4 linked regions of the Homo sapiens genome follow. The protein of the gene in region 1 purifies or fractionates together with the protein of each later gene. This does not show direct contact. Each region holds a gene or a part of one and is shown on either strand. Other genes may lie near its edges.

Evidence for each region. The genes of interacting proteins can lie anywhere in the genome.
Region 2: the proteins of DDX3X (region 1) and HNRNPM purify together in Homo sapiens (affinity purification with mass spectrometry; 2 studies listed by BioGRID, with this or other methods). This does not show direct contact.
Region 3: the proteins of DDX3X (region 1) and EIF3J purify together in Homo sapiens (affinity purification with mass spectrometry; 2 studies listed by BioGRID, with this or other methods). This does not show direct contact.
Region 4: the proteins of DDX3X (region 1) and HNRNPR fractionate together in Homo sapiens (co-fractionation; 2 studies listed by BioGRID). This does not show direct contact.

Annotation. Positions count from the first base shown.
Region 1 is NC_000023.11:41,340,302-41,344,161, reverse strand, and holds part of DDX3X (ATP-dependent RNA helicase DDX3X), read right to left. Parts: intron 2,679-3,860; coding exon 2,546-2,678; intron 1,668-2,545; coding exon 1,509-1,667; intron 1,426-1,508; coding exon 1,326-1,425; intron 947-1,325; coding exon 811-946; intron 426-810; coding exon 340-425; intron 133-339; coding exon 34-132; intron 1-33. UniProt on the Homo sapiens protein: Multifunctional ATP-dependent RNA helicase. The ATPase activity can be stimulated by various ribo-and deoxynucleic acids indicative for a relaxed substrate specificity.
Region 2 is NC_000019.10:8,461,068-8,465,616, forward strand, and holds part of HNRNPM (heterogeneous nuclear ribonucleoprotein M), read left to right. Parts: intron 1-1,461; coding exon 1,462-1,514; intron 1,515-2,429; coding exon 2,430-2,437; intron 2,438-2,525; coding exon 2,526-2,619; intron 2,620-4,256; coding exon 4,257-4,448; intron 4,449-4,549. UniProt on the Homo sapiens protein: Pre-mRNA binding protein in vivo, binds avidly to poly(G) and poly(U) RNA homopolymers in vitro. Involved in splicing.
Region 3 is NC_000015.10:44,549,740-44,554,288, forward strand, and holds part of EIF3J (eukaryotic translation initiation factor 3 subunit J), read left to right. Parts: intron 1-1,136; coding exon 1,137-1,191; intron 1,192-1,691; coding exon 1,692-1,783; intron 1,784-4,549. UniProt on the Homo sapiens protein: Component of the eukaryotic translation initiation factor 3 (eIF-3) complex, which is required for several steps in the initiation of protein synthesis.
Region 4 is NC_000001.11:23,337,643-23,342,191, forward strand, and holds part of HNRNPR (heterogeneous nuclear ribonucleoprotein R), read right to left. Parts: intron 3,379-4,549; coding exon of another isoform or gene 3,367-3,378; coding exon 3,210-3,366; intron 967-3,209; coding exon 848-966; intron 220-847; coding exon 112-219; intron 1-111. UniProt on the Homo sapiens protein: Component of ribonucleosomes, which are complexes of at least 20 other different heterogeneous nuclear ribonucleoproteins (hnRNP). hnRNP play an important role in processing of precursor mRNA in the nucleus.

The DNA of each region.
Region 1 (3,860 bases):
AAAAAGCTAATAATCACTGGAACTCATACTTACTTTTCTGGCTTCCTCGTAGATCTGTACTGCCAACTCTCTCGTTGGTGCTAATACCAAGGAGATTGGGTATTGTTTGCGGCGCCCATACCTTCCATTTTCCTAAGAAATAAGTTAATTTTTAAGTTAACTCTACCTACCCTGTTTGAAAAGTTCATCACAACATAATTCCCTTTTGTAATTTATAGATTACAGATTACACTTGAAAACTGGTTTTCATTCTACTTAAGTCTTAGCATCATTTAGAAAGCCCTCTCAATGGCCACCTACAAAGTTCTACAATTTCCCATTTTATAAAGAAACATCTACCTTCATGGCCCTCAAAGCCTCGCCTGGACCATCTGAATAAATCTGACTCAAGATGGGCAACAGAAATGCTGCAGTTTTTCCAGACCCTGTTCAAAAACAAACAAACAAATCCTGCTCATTACTTTTAAACAGACATTGGTAGATGACAGTGTTTTTTAACTACCCTATTACTAATAATTAGTACTTTTAGTTTATGCTTAAGTTTTCCAAAAAGTGGCTTCTCTGCTCCACCTCTAAGAGGAGTCAGCAAACTGAGACTATTTTGTAAATAAAGCCTGTTATTTTTATAAATAAAGCTCTTACGGAATACAGCCGTAACCAATAATTTATGTATCATCTATGGCTTCTTTCACAGTCCAATAGCAGCGCAGAGCAGCTGCAAAACTGCATGACCCATAAAAAATAAAATATTTTATTGTCTAGTCCTTTACAGAAGAAATATGATGTTTTACTCTTATGAGTTGAGCTTACCTGTTTGGGCACAAGCCATCAAGTCTCTTTTCTCTTTGATAATAGGAATAGCATGCTTTTGCACTGGAGTTGGGCGAGTATAACGAGTAAGCTCAATGTTTCCCATGATAATTTCTCCCATCTCAACATCACTGAACTGTTAAGAAATTCAATGGGGTTAGGAATGCTATCTAGAGCTATTTCTGTTTTATACTAATAATGGAAACAACCAACCAACAGCTGATTGGTAACTCAGTTTATAGTTTAAGTAAAATTATCACATTATACTTTGAGAAAAACCAACCCCCAGGCTTACTGCACATTGGAGAAGACTTTGGGTTGTTCCTATGTTTGACCCATTTTCTATTTTAGGTAATAAATTATTCATAATGGTGACACTGAACTCAACTTCTCCTTTTCCACAAATCTATGAAGCCTCTGGTCTACATGACTTTATGAAGCCCATCTCACATTCTAATGTAACATGAAAACATTTAACCTCTCTGTGTCTTAAAAAGTCAAGCAAAAATACTCACACTTTCAATATGTGGAGGACAGTTGTTGCCTGTTGCCTCAACTGGAATGTCATCGTATTTCTCAAAATTAATCCCAGTGTTGCCTCCAGAAAAGAGTTCCCTCAAATCAAAAAATGGATAAGTTCATTTGTTATACTAGCTAGTAAGGCTTCATCACAAGTAACATACACTTCAAAAACTTACTGTTCCAAGCGTTCACTTGGTGGGAGTGGTTTTGACCAATCATCTTCATCTGATTTGTCACACCAGCGACTGTTTCCACCACGTTCAAATTTGCCAAAGCCACTTCTGTCACCACGGCTGCCAATGCCATCGTAATCACTCCGTCCACGATCATCAAACCTGAACAGCACAAGCAATTAATCAGAATCATATCATTTAACCATTATCAGATTCTTATCCCTACTCTAGAACTGTATCTGGAGACTTAAGTTATGGCTAACCATAAGGATGTCAACAATCCAATTCTGAGTTACTTGACAAATAAGGCTCTCTAACCAGCATCATTTACATAACCTCGTTTTCTAAAATCAGTAATCTTTACATTTCTATAAAGTTGTATAGCCTAAAAGGCCTCACAGATGCCAAAATTAAGAATAAGGATTTTATTTGAAATCGGCACACAGCTCACAACCTTCATTTAAAGTGCTCATCCAAATATATTTAATGGTAGGGAAAACAAGAAAATAGCACACCAAATATCAATCGTCCTAGTTATACTAGGATGTCACTTAAAGGACAATTCACCTGTGTGACAGACTTTGGATAAAAGGTAGAAAATAATCCTTACCTGAACTAAGATGTTTTTAAGAGTTTTAGGCCTGTTTGCGAAAAATCAGGACACAGGACTAACCACAGCTATTAGGCACGTGGGGTCAGTTCACCACACTTGTGTAATCAAAAATACAAGGTGTTTAGAAATTGTTATAGAGTCCACAAAAATCCCAACCAAATTAGGCCATTCACTAGATGAACTTACTCTTTTAAGTAGAACATATAAAACTCGAGAAATAGAATAACTCATTTCATTATGCCAATGAGCATATTCCTATTTTCATCTAATTTCTAAGTAACAGGTTCAATTTAGTAAAAGCCTCTTACGGCTAAGAAAATACAATGACCAAACAGACATAATGCTTAACATCCAAACAGGTGGTCAGGATAACGACTTATTAAACTGTTATTATACATACACGTAAGGTGATTAAGAAATCACTTACCTTCCCCTTGATCCACTTCCACGATCACTGAAGAAGCTAGACTTCCCTCTTGAATCACTACGAGATCCAAAACTGCTATACGCATCCTTATCTTTGCTAGAACTCCACCCTGAACTGTCTTTATCGTAGAAACCTTTGATTAAAAAAGCACAAATACATTTTATTATTAATTAGAAATAGGAACCATGTTAAGGTATTATCAATCTTTCTGAATTTGAAAGCCTCCACTGACTATCCCTACCATGGCACTGTAAGAGAACCAAGATTTAAAGCTGGTTTACACCCGGACAAAGTTTTTCTTTAATTCTCCCCACTAGAAAATACTGTCCACTGGCCAGGCATGGTGGCTCACGCCTGTAATCCCAGCACTTTGGGAGGCCAAGGCGGGCAGGTCACCTGAGGTCAGGAGTTCGAGACTAGCCTGACCAACATGGAGAAACCCCGTCTCTACTACATATACAATATTAGCCAGGCGTGGTGGCCCACGTCTGTAATCCCAGCTACTCAGGAGGCTGAGGCAGGAGAATCACTTGAACCCGGGAGGCTGAGGTTGCAGTGAGCCAAGATTGCGCCACTGCACTCCAGCACGGGAAACAAGAGTGAAACACCCTTGTCTCAAAAAAAAAAAAATTACTTTACACTAAATCAAGCAATCTGACAGTCTAAGAATGTTTCTCAATGAATACTACCTCTAAGTGGTCAACAGCTTTGCCTGTAACGCATTATGACGTTGTGTGACCATAACAATTTAATTTCCATTCATTTTATAGGTGTGAATGAGTTTACTAGGAAAAACAGTTACCATTGTTTCCATGTTTCTTGGAGGTGGTATTCATTTAGAACATTCATAGACTGTCAGATTACTTGGTTTAATACAGTATTTTTCAGTTTCAATAGTATAAAGTACAAGAACACTAATGTCAAATTGTAGTATTATTTTAGTGGTTCATCTACTATAAGCTTGATGACAATCAGGAATACCTGGGAAAAAGAAAAACCCTCATCACTATATATTCTCAGTATAGACAAGGTTCCTGGGTACAGCTATAAATATCCAGGTAAGGGGATGACAAACATGTAAATTAACCCAAAGACAGGTAGAGGGTTTAAAGACAGGTAGAGGGTTTAACTAGCTTCAGCAACACCTTATTAAACAGAAACAGCTTCTCAATTCAGTTACTTTCCTTCTGCCTTCTACCTCCTACCGTTAGGCCAGTCAGGTGACCAACAGCCTTTGCTAGCAAGAAAGAGTTAAGTTAGATTGCCAGATCTCTACCAGCTCTAAAACCTCTATGATACTGCCATATACACGAGG
Region 2 (4,549 bases), on another chromosome or scaffold:
ATCCCTCATATTTCCGTTCTTCATTTCTTTGCACTGATGATTCTCCTGTTTTGTACAAAGTGTCAGTTTCGTTCTGAAACATTTCAGGAGAGGACAAAGAGGGTGAGGCTCTAGATGTAAACTTTGGACACTTGGCTTTCTTGCCTTCAACCAATGTGCAGAGCCATTAATAAATATGTCCTTCAGATCTTTAAATTTTTTGTAAAATAATTTTACCTTGTTTTTCATTAAAAATTTTTCTTCCTATAGCCTCATAATTTTAATGTCCTTTAAACAAAAGAGTTGGAATAGGCATGACTTGTTGAGGCCGTTAAGCGGGTTATTTTTACCCTTGTACTGCTAAACCAAACCGATCCAGAGGACAACAAAAGCCCATTTTTTGCCTTTGGAGAGTCTGGTTAGAGATAGTTTTCTCCAGGGTAACACTTTACATTTGTTTTCTGTGTGCCATCTTCAAGTTCAGCAGCCATTTTGGTGGTTGTCTTGATGGATTCTAACATCTGGTCATGGTGGTCATGAATTGGCAATCCAAACCTTGAGGAAAATCTGCAGAAACTTTTGAAATGCTTTGGTTTTTTCCCTTTTGTGTAGATTAGAATCATATGAGTCTGTTTAACTGTTTAGATACAAAATCTGAGCCCTAAATTTGAATTTATTTGTGTCCTTTAAATGGGGAGGTTTAGAAAGCGGCAAGAATGAAGCCTGGCCTAATTCACTGAAGAGAATCCAGATGCTGCTCTGGTTTTGTGATCTTATTATATTCAAACATTCTGCCTCTACAGATGTGGAGCCTAGTGCTGTGTGCAGGACCAGCTATAGAATTTGTGGGGCCCAACACAAAACGAAAACAAGGGGCCTCTTGTTAAAAAAAAAAACTAAGAATGTCATGGCAGCGATAACAGCATTAAACCAAGCTCAGGGCCCCTGAGTGCGGGGCTCTGTACAATTGCACGAGTTGCTCACCTGTGAAGCTGGCCCTGCGGCCGTGTGTGCCTGTGAGCTTATACCTTCGCATACGTGCGTCCTTGTATTTATAGCATGTGAGCTCAGCCCGATGGCATCGCAATTTGTATGCATTTCACCTGCTTGCCACCAATGAGAGCGTATGTGTAAAACCTCCTCCCTTCCCCAGAAAAGTAAATCACGCAGACTTCTTTCCTATAGATTTGGATTGCCTCTAGTCATGAATGAGTCTTCCAGACAGGGAAATTGATACGGAAATCTGTGGAATAGCTTGTTTGTGGTGGGAGGAAAATCAAGGACATATTGTTAACGTGTTTTCACCTACTTTTACTGCACACCTGTAATGCCTAGTTCGGTGGTTTAGAGAATATGGAGTGTTTCTGGGCTTTCTTATAAGGCAGAGGCTCCATACAAGGTTGCTGATGATTGTTCTAAATTCCCATTGTTTTCTTGGCTTTTCTCCCTTGGTTTATGTGTCGTCTGGAAACTGATTTGTAGTTGGTGAGGTAACATACGTGGAGCTCTTAATGGACGCTGAAGGAAAGTCAAGGGTAAGTGTCTGAGAGAATTTCTTCTGTGGATTTACTACATGAAAAATGTAACTGTATGGTGGCGTGGAATCGAATGAAATCAGGAAGGCAGTGAGTGCTCATGTTACAGTAGCTATGTTTGATTTTGCCAAACATTTGAGTGGGGTGGGAGGGGATTTGCAAATGGGAGTCCCGCTTTTCCAAATGGCTGGCCAAAGAGCTTTTTGGTATTCTGTTTGGATGCCCAATTTGGATAACTGGGGACCAATAGCAGCATTGTCTCTTTGTTAACAGAGGAATTGGCTGTGTGTGAATTATGCATGGAATTTTAGCGGTGGTATAATTAATGTAAAACGTGTGTTCTTGTCTAGAAAATGTTACTCTTGGTTGTTTGCTGAATTTGAAAGTTGTGTGAACCAAAGATTCCGAAAAGTTGCCTTTGTGCCAGTAAATTGTAAACCAAATATTAAAAACCTGAATGTTCAAAATTGGCCTAGTTTAAAGAGAACATAAACTATTTTCTGTCGTGCAATAGAATGGCTTAGAATAATCAAAAGGATGAGCTTAACTTACGGAAGGGATGGATTTAGGAGGAATATGGTAAGGACTCGATTGAGTACAGAGGGAAGCAGATCTAAAGTTGGTGTGATTTCTTGGAGACCCTGAATTTAGGTCTGCTTATTAAATGTCAGCAGCTCTAGTGCAATGCTGGTAACGCGTAGGAGAAGGAGATATTAAGGAGCCCAGCTTTTAACAAGGAAGGCGAGGCGAGGCACTTCTGTCAGCTTCCCCTTAGAAGGGTTCATTTTAAAAGACTAACTTTGTGACATAAATCATATTTTTAGTTTGTTTATAACTGTCATTGATATTTACTATTTTTTTCTTTTCTTTTTCCCCTTCCTTGCTCTTCTGACTGGTCTCTGGCTTCCTCCAAAGGGATGTGCGTAAGTATCGTCTAGTTACTTATTGGTATTTGAGCCTTCTAACTTGTAGGACTGGTTTCACTCGACTCGTTTCCTTTTGACTCTATAGTGTTGTTGAATTCAAGATGGAAGAGAGCATGAAAAAAGCTGCGGAAGTCCTAAACAAGCATAGTCTGAGCGGAAGACCACTGAAAGTCAAAGAAGTAAGCTCTTGCTTAACACTGCGGATACTGTGTGTAATTGTTGAGTGATCCTACTTTGGAATTAGGGAAAGACGGTCATGGTCCCAGACGGCATTTACAAAGCAAGTGCCAGCCTGTTGTTTCTAATGAAGAGTGTCGGTCATAGCCTACAGCAGCCATTCCCTGCAAGGACTTTGGGGTGGTGGCCAAGCAGATCCTGAGTGGCTGCTGACCACCTTCTAATATCTGTGATTTGTCTGAGGCCTTGTTGTCTCAGGGACTCTCAAACCATGAGCCCGTGGGTTTGTGCCATTAAGTTTTACTCCATCTGACCCTTCTTCTTGGCCCATCTTTTTTCTTTTTTTAAAAAGTGAGTTTGTTCCAGCCTGGGCAACATGGTGAAACCCCCTCTCTACAAAAGGTACAAAAATTAGCCAGGCATGGTGGCGCATGCCTGTAGTCCTAGCTACTTGGGAGGCTGAGGCAGGAGGATCATTTGAGCCCAGGATGTGGAGGTTGCAGTGAGCTGAGATTGCACCATTGCACTCCAGCCCGGGCAACAGTGAGACCCTGTCTAAAAAATAAAAAAATAAAGTGAGTTTGTTATTCCTCAAACCTGCTTTCACATCTCATCTGAATCAAATATATTCCTTGAGGAAGAAGGTTTTTTTGTTGATTAAATCCCTCTTGGCTGGGCGCAGTGGCTCACGCCTGTAATCCCCAGCACTTTGGGAGGCTGAGGTGGGTGGATCAAGGTCATGAGTTCAAGACCAGCTTGACCAACATGGTGAAACCCTGTCTACTAAAAATACAAAAAATTAGCTGGGCGTAGTGGGGGGTGCCTGTAATCCATCTACTCGGGAGGCTGAGGCAGGAGAATCGCTGGAACCCAGGAGGCGGAGGTTGCAGTGAGCCGAGATCGCGCCATTGAACTCCAGCCTGGGCAGTAAGAGCAAAGCTCTGTCTCAAAAAAACATCCCTCTTAACTTCTTTTCACCTCTTCTCTTGGGGAGGAAGATGAGTAGATTCAGAGTGAAGCTTGGTAGGGTCTAAGGTCTCTCATGTGTTATGATGTCTTTTTTAGTGCTGATGGTGGTAATTGACAGGACAGAGAGTTGAAGAAGAGAGTCAGTACAGAGCTTCACAGACCTTCCCAGATGTTGTTTTACTGCGCAGCCCTCACACACACGCCTCCAACACCTGAAGGACTTGAAGGATGGGGGCGCTTGTGTGGTCTAGAACTGTTTCTCAAACTTCTGGAAGCCATTGACGGGGTTTGCAGAAGTTACAAAACCCCATTGATGAATTAGTAAGATTCAGCTATACCAAGCCCATGAAGCTCTAATTTCAGTCTGGCGGTTCTACATTATATCAGCTAATCATGTTTCCCTCCCTACCCTGCTTTTCTTTTTTACTTAGTGCAATTGAGAGCTGTGTTTTTAGTGCTACACTTCATGCCTTTTCTTCCTTTCCTATTTCTTTAGCTGGACTCTTCTAAGCTGGTAGTTGAGTTCATTTGACTTTCTTGTTAATAGATTTGAGAGATGCTTTCCAAACAACCTTTCAGTTTCTAAGTCTTGAGAATATCATTTACTGTGCAAGCATGGTTTGCGTTGTACTGGGTCAGTTAAACGTAACACCTTTTGTGCTTGTTTTAGGATCCTGATGGTGAACATGCCAGGAGAGCAATGCAAAAGGTGATGGCTACGACTGGTGGGATGGGTATGGGACCAGGTGGCCCAGGAATGATTACTATCCCACCCAGTATCCTAAATAATCCCAACATCCCAAATGAGATTATCCATGCATTACAGGCTGGAAGACTTGGAAGCACAGTATTTGTAGCAAATGTAAGTAAACAGAACCATCGTCTAAAGTAGAAAATCAGAACTTTATGAAATGACCTTGTCAATATGTTATAAAAGTAATTCTCACATTTGAGAAGAAAAAT
Region 3 (4,549 bases), on another chromosome or scaffold:
GGGCGACAGAACGAGACTCCGTCTCAAAAAAAAAAAAAAAAAAAAAAAAAACCATTTCTACTAAAAATAAATGAGCCAGGCATGGTGGTGTATGCCTGTAATCCTAGTTACTGGGGAGGCTGAGGCAGGAGAATCGCTTGAACCTAGGAGGTGGAGGTTGCAGTGAGCTGAGATCGTGACATTGCACTCCAGCCTGGGCAAGAAACTCCGTCTCAAAAAAAAAAAAAAAGTCTGGTAAATTTTATTGCATAAATTTGTTGGGATGCATAGCAATTCATGGGGAAACAATAGAGGCATTTCCATCAAGAAAGCAAGGATGCCCATTACTTCTGCTGCTGTTCAACATTGCACTAGAGGTTTAGCTGGCCCAATTAGGTAAATCACTTGTGAGGGCCTAAGGATTGGTAGAGAAGTAAAGCTATCTTTTGTTTGCAGATAAGGTAGCATACCTGTAAAACCCTAGAGAAGCAACGATAAATCTAACTTAAGTGATAAATGAATTCAGTAAGGTAGCAGGATATTAACATATAAAAAAGCCAATAGTCATTTTTGTTTATTTGTTTTGAGACAGGGTTTTTATGATAGTGAGTTGCCTAGGATAGAGTGCAGTGGCACTATCATAGCTCACTGCAGCCTTAACCTCCTGGGCTCAAGTGATCTTCCCACCTTAGCCTCTCAAGTAGCTGAGACTACAGGCACATGCCACGTTGCCCAGTTAATTTTTTAATTTTTTTTTTTTTTGCAGAGACTGGGTCTTGCCGATAGGTTTTTATACACAAATAATAGCCACCTAGAGGACATAATAGGAAAACACCCTATTTATAATAGCAACATACAAGATGAAATACTTAGGAATAAATCTAAAGAGAAATGCGCAGAGCCTCTAATAGGGAAATCACTTTAAAACACTTCTGAAAGGTACAAAAATGTACTTGATCAAATGGAAAGACAGTTCTTATTCTTGGTTAGGGCAGCTCAGCATTATAAGATGTCAATTCCCCCTACATTAATTTATAAATTTAATGCAGTACAAAAAAATACCAACAAACATTTCTCTGGAGTTAGTCAAGTTGATAATAAAGTTCACATAGAAAAGCAAACATGCAAGAATTATTAATGGAAGTCCTTTTCTTTAGGATAACTGGGATGACGATGATGATGAAAAAAAAGAGGAAGCAGAAGTAAAACCAGGTGAGCCACTGGGGCGCCTCCATTTTTGTTTTTATGTCTTGCTGAGCATTTGTGACTTGTATTAAGACAAATGACAGAACGCTCACAAAATGGAACATTTTGGTATTTAGAAACCAAGTGTCCTTCCATTCCCACTTTATTCTGTTTTCCCTGCAACTTTTCTCTATCGCCTCAAAATATAATCAGATTAGATACTTGCTGTATTTCTGTATGAGTGCTTGTTAGTAGGAAAGGGTAGAGGTTCTGGCATTAATTATAGTTGAATGATCTAAGCCCTGCCTATAGGACGGTGGGGAAATATGAAGAGATATTTGGATCTTAGGGGTCACATTAGAGAGGAGAAGGAAGAGTCCCAGAAGTTTCCCATTATTTGTGAGAAAAATCACTGTTTGAAGCTGGGAAAGGTTTGGTCTCTTAATAGTATACAAGTATCATGTCTGTCTCATCCATAAACTGGAAAATACTCAGTATAACTGAATAAAACTTTTTTTTACTTTTAGAGGTAAAAATTTCAGAAAAGAAAAAAATAGCAGAGAAGATAAAAGAGAAAGAACGGCAACAGAAGAAAAGGCAAGAAGAAATTAAAAAGAGGGTAAATTCTGTTTTCTAAAATACAGAATTCTCACATCGGTAGTGGTATAGTTTCTAACAGGCTGCAAATATTACCTAGGAATTTGAAGGGCTCTGTGAAGACTGTAAATGGATACCATAAGATAGGTAAAATCCAAAACAAATTGATTTGTGGTTTTTGCAAAAACAGAACCCAGTTTTATATATGAGTGTCTTTTAAGTTTTCACAAACATTCAGGAATAGTCATGATAGTGCAGTGACTACAGTCAGTGATTTTTGCCAGTGCCTGTAGTTCATTCTAGTCAGCAGTATTAGTTTTTGTTGTTGTTTTTTGTTTTTTTTTTTTGGAGACGGAGTCTTGCTCTGTCGCTAGGCTGGAGTACAGTGGCACAATCTCGGCTCAGTGCAACCTCTGCCTCCCGAATTCAAGCCATTCCCCTGCCTCAGCCTCCTGAGTAGCTGGGACTACAGGAGCCACGGCGAGCTAATTTTTTGTATTTTAGTAGAGATAGGGTTTCACCATGTTGGCCAGGATGGTCTCAATCTCCTGACCTCGTGATCCACCCGCCTCGGCCTCCCAAAGTCCTGGGATTACAGGTGTGAGCCACCGCGTCTGGCCAGGATTAGTTTTTATTTGCAGTGTATATATTGAACATAATATAAAAATTGTTCATTTCTGTGCCATGTGCTATATAAATGTATTTGTTTTTGATTTTTTGGCACAGGATCAGAAATATATGCTTGTTTTTTTTTGTTTTTGTTTTTAGACAGAGTCTCACTCCGTTACCTAGGCTGGAGTGCAGTGGTGTGATTTTGGCTCACTGCAGCCTCCACTTCCCAGGTTCAAGCAATTGTCATGCCTCAGCATCCCAGGTTGGAATTACAGGCACACGCAACCATGCCTGGCTAATCTTTGTATTTTTAGTAGAGATGGGGTTTCGCCATGTTGGCCGGGCTGGTCTCAAACTCCTGACCTCAAGTGATCTGCCTGCTTCGACCTCCCAAAGTGCTGGGATTACAAGCATGAGCCACCACGTCCAGCCTATTTTCTATTTCTTTTCTTTTCTTTTTTTTTTTTTAGAGATGGAGTTTCACTCTAGTCGCCCAGGCGGGAGTGCAATGGCGTGATCTTGGCTCACTGCAACCTTCTCCCGGGTTCAAGTGATTCTCCTGCCTCAGTCTTCGAGTAGCTGGGACTGCAGGCATGTGCTACCATGCCCAGCTAATTTTGTATTATCAGTAGAGATGGCATTTCACCGTGTTGGCCAGGTTGGTCTCAAACTCCTGACCTCAGGTGATCCACCCGCCTTGGCCTCCCAGAGTGCTAGGATTATAGGCGTGAACCACTGTGCCTGGCCTATTTTCTATTTCAGAACACATTTACATGGTTCAAAAATTAAAACAGCCTGCGTGGTGGCTCATGCCTGTAATTGCAACGCTTTGGGAGGCTGAGGTGGGAGTATTGCTTGAGTCCATGGATTTGAGACCAGCCTGGACAACATAGGGAGACCCCGTCTCTACAAAAAATAGAAAAATAAGCTGGGCGTGGTGGTACATGCCTGTAGTATCAGCTGCTTGGGAGGCTAAGGTAGGAGAATCACTTGAGCCCAGGAAGTTGAGGCTGCAGTGAGCCATGACTGCGCCACTACACTCCAGCCTAGGTGACAGAGCAAGATCCTGCCTCAAAACAAAAAAAAAAAGAAGAAAACGGCCAGGCGTGGTGGCTCACGCCTGTAATCCTGGCACTTTGGGAGGCCGAGGCAGGCAGATCACAAGGTCAGGAGATCGAGACCATCCTGGCTAACACGGTGAAACCCCGTCTCTACTAAAAAATAGAAAAATTAGACGGGCGTGGTGGCGGGCGCCTGTAGTCCCAGCTACCTGGGAGGCTGAGGCAGGAGAATGGTGTGAACTCAGGAGGCGGAGCTTGCAGTGAGCGGAGATCGCACCACTGCACTCCAGCCCGGGCGACAGAGCGAGACTCCATCTCAAAAAAAAAAAAGAAAAAATAATTATATTCCAGTATAAAGAGAAGATAGATATACACTAAGCTGTCAACTGTCATGTCAGAGAAGTGGGTTTGGGAAACAAATGACATCTACTATTATATCTTTAAAATTTGTTATAGTGGTAATTTTATAATTATACAATATGATGAAAAGGGGAAATGTTTTGAACCATTCTGTTGGACATTTAGGTTGTCTGTAAATTTATTTGAAATTATGAATAATACTCTAATGTACATTCTTGGGCTTACATATTTGTGTGCATCTTATTTCTTAAGGTAAATACCTGGAAGTAGAATACTTGATTAAAGCATGTAAAAATATTATTTAAGACTTGATCCATATTACCAAGTTGCCCTAGAAAGGGTTTTCCAATATAGTTTTAGTAGCAGTGTATGAAAGTAATATTTTTACCTTGTCCACAGTCTCAATTCCTTTTTTTAAAAAAGGTTATAGAAGTAACCCCAGTCTTCCTGGGTACAAATCTGTCACGTTACCAGCTGTTACCTTCTATTTAGTTGTGGGCAGGTTGTTTCTTTGTGCCTCCATTGCTTATCTTTAAAATTGGGTTAAGGATACCTAAAGTGGACTGGGCGCAGTGGCTCACACCTGTAATCCCAACACTTTGGGAGGCTGAGATGGGCGGATCACTTGAGGCCAGGAGTTCAAGACCGGCCTGGCCAACATGGTGAAACCCCATCACTGCTAAAACTACAAAAATTAGCTGGATGTGGTGGTGCACGCCTGTAATCCCAGCTACTCGGGAGGCTGAGGTATGAGA
Region 4 (4,549 bases), on another chromosome or scaffold:
AGACTCCGTCTCAAAAAAAAAAAAAGTGAAACTTTCTAGGAAACATGGAAAGAGGCATTTGACCTCATCATTAAATGCAATTTCATTACAACTACCCAAGTCAAGTTTTACCTTGATCTTCGCTTCATCAGGTCCCTTTGTGGACTCTTGCACCTTGCTCCCCTGTTTCTCTCTCTGCCTGTAGGTCTTCATAACTCCACATAAAAATGCACTTTTGTTCTAGAACAGACAAGTAATTCAATAAAAAGAATCACCAAAAATATCTGAAGGGTCAGATACATAATTAAATTTAAATTTCAGAAAACCAGGATTTTAACAAAAGATTTACTGATTCATTCAACAAGTATTTGCCGAGTGGTTACTATGTGCCAGAGATTGGAGCAGACAGCAGTAAGGCAGTATAGACCTCAGGGAGCTTACCTTCTACCCTGGGAAAACACAGTCTTCCACTTGTTGATATGTGACTGTATCTAGACTGTCTTTGCCAGATGTCGGAAACTATTCCTCCCACCTACATTTTCCTCCAAGATAATAAAACAGGATCAAATAACCCCCAAATGTTAAAAAGCTGAGTAACATGTAAAAACCTATAGTAACAACCATCAAAACTTGGCTTTAATTTTAAGTTTTTAAAATAACTTACTGCACAAGGGGGTGGGAGAAAACTTTTGCTTTATACTTGGGCTTCTGAAACTCTGCCACAAGCAGTTTTTTTCCTTTAAACTAATTTTTTAAAAGAAGAGGTAGTCACAAACAAAAAATACCACTTCTCCATAGGAAAAAAAGTAATAGTAAAATAATTTCAGATTACTAATTGTTCAAAGACATTTCTGAGTAACGACCTTACCTGAACATGTGATAAGTCACTTTCCTTGAACTGCTGTAGTACAGACAGAGCTCCTTCTTCATTAAATTCCCTGAGAGCATCAATTGCTCTTTCATCAAGATCGACATAAGCTACCAATCCTAAAAATTAAATTGAAAGGGGTAACGTTATTGCAACAAAAGGGGTAATCTAAGCTCTACTGACGTTTAATCAAGAATTGTTACATTCAATATGATCACTAACAAACTGTATTTTCATTTAACTATATGCATATACGCAGCTATCCAAATACTACATAGAAAGGTCCAGGACAAATATGAAAATAAAGATAAAATGTCAACAACCAAAAACATGAATTTCAATCTCCATATCCACAAACCTCCCCCGCCAAATCCTAACATCCATTTCCCACTCCCCCAAAGGTATAAGTCTTGAAAGTTAAATCTGATGTACATACTGTATTACAGATTATGCATTAATACAACAAATTTTGGTTTATATTAGAGTGATAAGAATACATTGCGTTTTCCAAGGATAAACCTTCAAATTACAGACGGTTACAGTTGATGCTAACCACCTAAGAGGTGGAGGAAAATCTGAAAACAAATTTTACTAAGTAATTCTTTCCACTCTCCAAAAAGTGTCAAAAGGCTTTCCCTCCTGAACACCAAAGATAAACTGAAATGCATTTGTTTATCTGAGCATCCACTTTGCTGCAGTCAGAATGTGGAAAGGCATAATTTTAAACTTCTACAAATGCAAGTGCAGCTTGATTAATCAATTCTGAAAGTCATACTTTAAGGCATTCTTTGTTCTTCTGAAGTGACAAGCTGAGATTTAAAAGATGCTGTGGCATTCACATTGACTGTCAAGAACGACAATCATTTTCAAATGGCAATAAAGACTTTATGGTCTTACAAGTAAACTTGACAGAAAATATATACACTGCATTTCATATATGTAAGTATATTCAACTGCACACAGAACATCTACTAAGTTTAAAATATAATTTCTTAAGTCTGTTAAGTTTGTGTCATATTTACATATGGAATATATTTCAGAATTGATCCAACGTAAAATGCAAGTATTTCGTAGATTAAAACCCCCAAGTTCATATGAACATGAAAAGTGACTCCATTTTGATAAAGCTAAAAAGAACTTTATTCCATATAGTAAATTTTAAATAAATGTAATGCCACTTCCAAAGTTACTTTTTAAAAAAGTTGCCATGATTTGTTTCAAAAGCTCGAAATGAGCATGTGTAAATAACTGGAGCTGCCTCACTTGAATATTCCATACCACCACCCGAAGCCACAACTCAGGACACCCATCAATCCATTTTGTCAAACCAAGTCTACGCCCAAACCATCAGCCTCTTATCAATAACAAAACACTCTACAAGAGAGCATCTCTAAGCAGATCACTGCCAATTCTCTATGGCAGAATGTCACAGAAAGTTCCTGAGGACTGATTTTCAAATGCGACCATGACCCAGGAGTCATTTTTATAAGTCATTTTAATGTCTAAAATTATGCTAAGCTTCCCAGATTTAAAAATTTTTTAAGGACAAAAAAAAAAAAACAGCTATTTGCTACTACTGTACTTAAGACACATTTGTGAGTGAGACAATTCAATTCTCTCTCAGAATCTGAATAGGCACACACAACACAGAGGAAGAAAGTTTCCATCTATGTCCCCAAAGGAGGAGGACACATTCATTTATGAACAACGCTCCCTAAGGGTAAATATTTCTCTCCCTCTTTAAAACTTCAAACCACTTACAACCAACTATATTAAGATGTTCAAATTTGCTTAAGCACTTAACCATGGCACTTCTGGATTAAAAAAAAAAAAAAGAAGCAGCTGTTACAACCAAACACTTCCAAATTACGGAGAGATGTGGATTTCTATTAGAAACTAGACAAGCCACAAACTCTCAAGGAGTCTGACATTTATTATGGTTTCAGACGATACAGCTATCCTCTTGTTATGCCACCTAATCAGACCTAAGCTGATTTAACAATCACTTTAAGAAGGTAAAAGTAGAAAAGCAAAAGCAAAATGATGACTGATTTTGATTAAGAAAAAAATGTAAAATTTGGTATGCAGAAACATACATTTTTATGGGTGGTAAATCTAAGACAAATCGATGTGCTGTTCTGAAACAACTAAGACTGCATATTCAACACTAAGAAGGCTTCAAAATAATGAAATAAGAGTATCAAAGTCAAACCCAATATGCCTTCAATGAAGGGAAAGTAACAAACATTCAGCTCTACAGATCAGAAACAATAAGTATTATTTAACCTTAAAAAACTATAAAATTCAAAGTGGTTTGCCCTCACTTTCATAACCAGTCAGAAACAAGAAATGCATATTATACCTGTCTGAAATATTTCATCAAGTCTTTCTGCCACCTTCTGTGGGAGGCCTGCCTCTATCAGTGTCTTGTAGTGTTCTGTGTGAGTTACACTGGAAGTATCCATTGGTTCTTCCTCTTCTTTTAACTGTACCGCATTACCATTCACCTGATTAGCCATTTTATTATGCTGCTGGAAAAAATTCAGGAGCTATATTACATTAAGCCAGAAATAACTAGTTTGTAGGACAATGCATGATTTATCTAAACTAATTTGTATACATGCTGCTAATAACCTCTATCAAAATAATAATTTATTCCTCCTGTGATGTATCTGACCTAAATTGGCAATAATAATCCTGTAAAACCATAGAAAATGTACATGGAAGCATTAGATCTTTAAGGAACTTCATGTACACCGGGTAAGATAAAGGCTTTAATTTACTGAAGGTAGAATTGCTGATTAACAAAAGCAGCTGTTCTGTCCTGGTGAAAAGATCAAAATCACTACAAAATCCTTTACTAAAAAGCCCCTCAGCTCTCGGGTCTTACACAGTTTTAAAAAGTTTTGTTTTAAAAACAGAATGAACACCCACAGACCACTTAATCAAGATTTAAGGACTTTCAAATTTTCCTGGCTCTGCTTCAAATACAGTATCGGTGTGAAATAAGTGCCCTGTTTTCTCTAGTTCAACATGCTGGTGGTTTGGGTTTTCTCCACCTAACAATACAAAACGAAAACAAAAAAAAACCAACTTGACATTAATTTTTGTTCTAAGATTAATTCGCTATTCCCACAGATTTAAAAGAAAAAATGACCAAGTTTAAAAGCGAAACAATTGTTTTCAGTCCAAATAAAATACTAAGTGAGCTATAGTTTAGGTTGCTTCTTAAAAAAAAAGAGTACATGTTGAAATTTTCATATCAGTAAAATAAAGATGTAAAAACATACTGAAGAATGGACAACTTCTTCCAAATATTTCAAAAACCGTTACCTAATTAGGCTAAACTTCAGCCAGATTTCTCAGATTAACCTATCAAAAATAATTTTGTACATTCAGCCTGTAGGTAATGCTGAAATGGACTGACTCCCTGAAGAGAGAGAGTAAACAATAAACCATACAAGGCCAGTCTGTGTACTGCCTCAAAAGACAGGGAATTAAAGTGCATTTGTCTGTGGTGAAATTACAATGTGATGAAGATAATAGGCAGCAGAACAAGACATTGCAACACATACTAAATAAAAGACATAAAGGTGGATCTCAAGAAAAAGCCTACTTTTCTTGATGAAACTCAAGATACCTAGTCATCTATAAAGAAAATACAAGTCTCCTACAAAGTACTAAGACACATAAGATAACCAC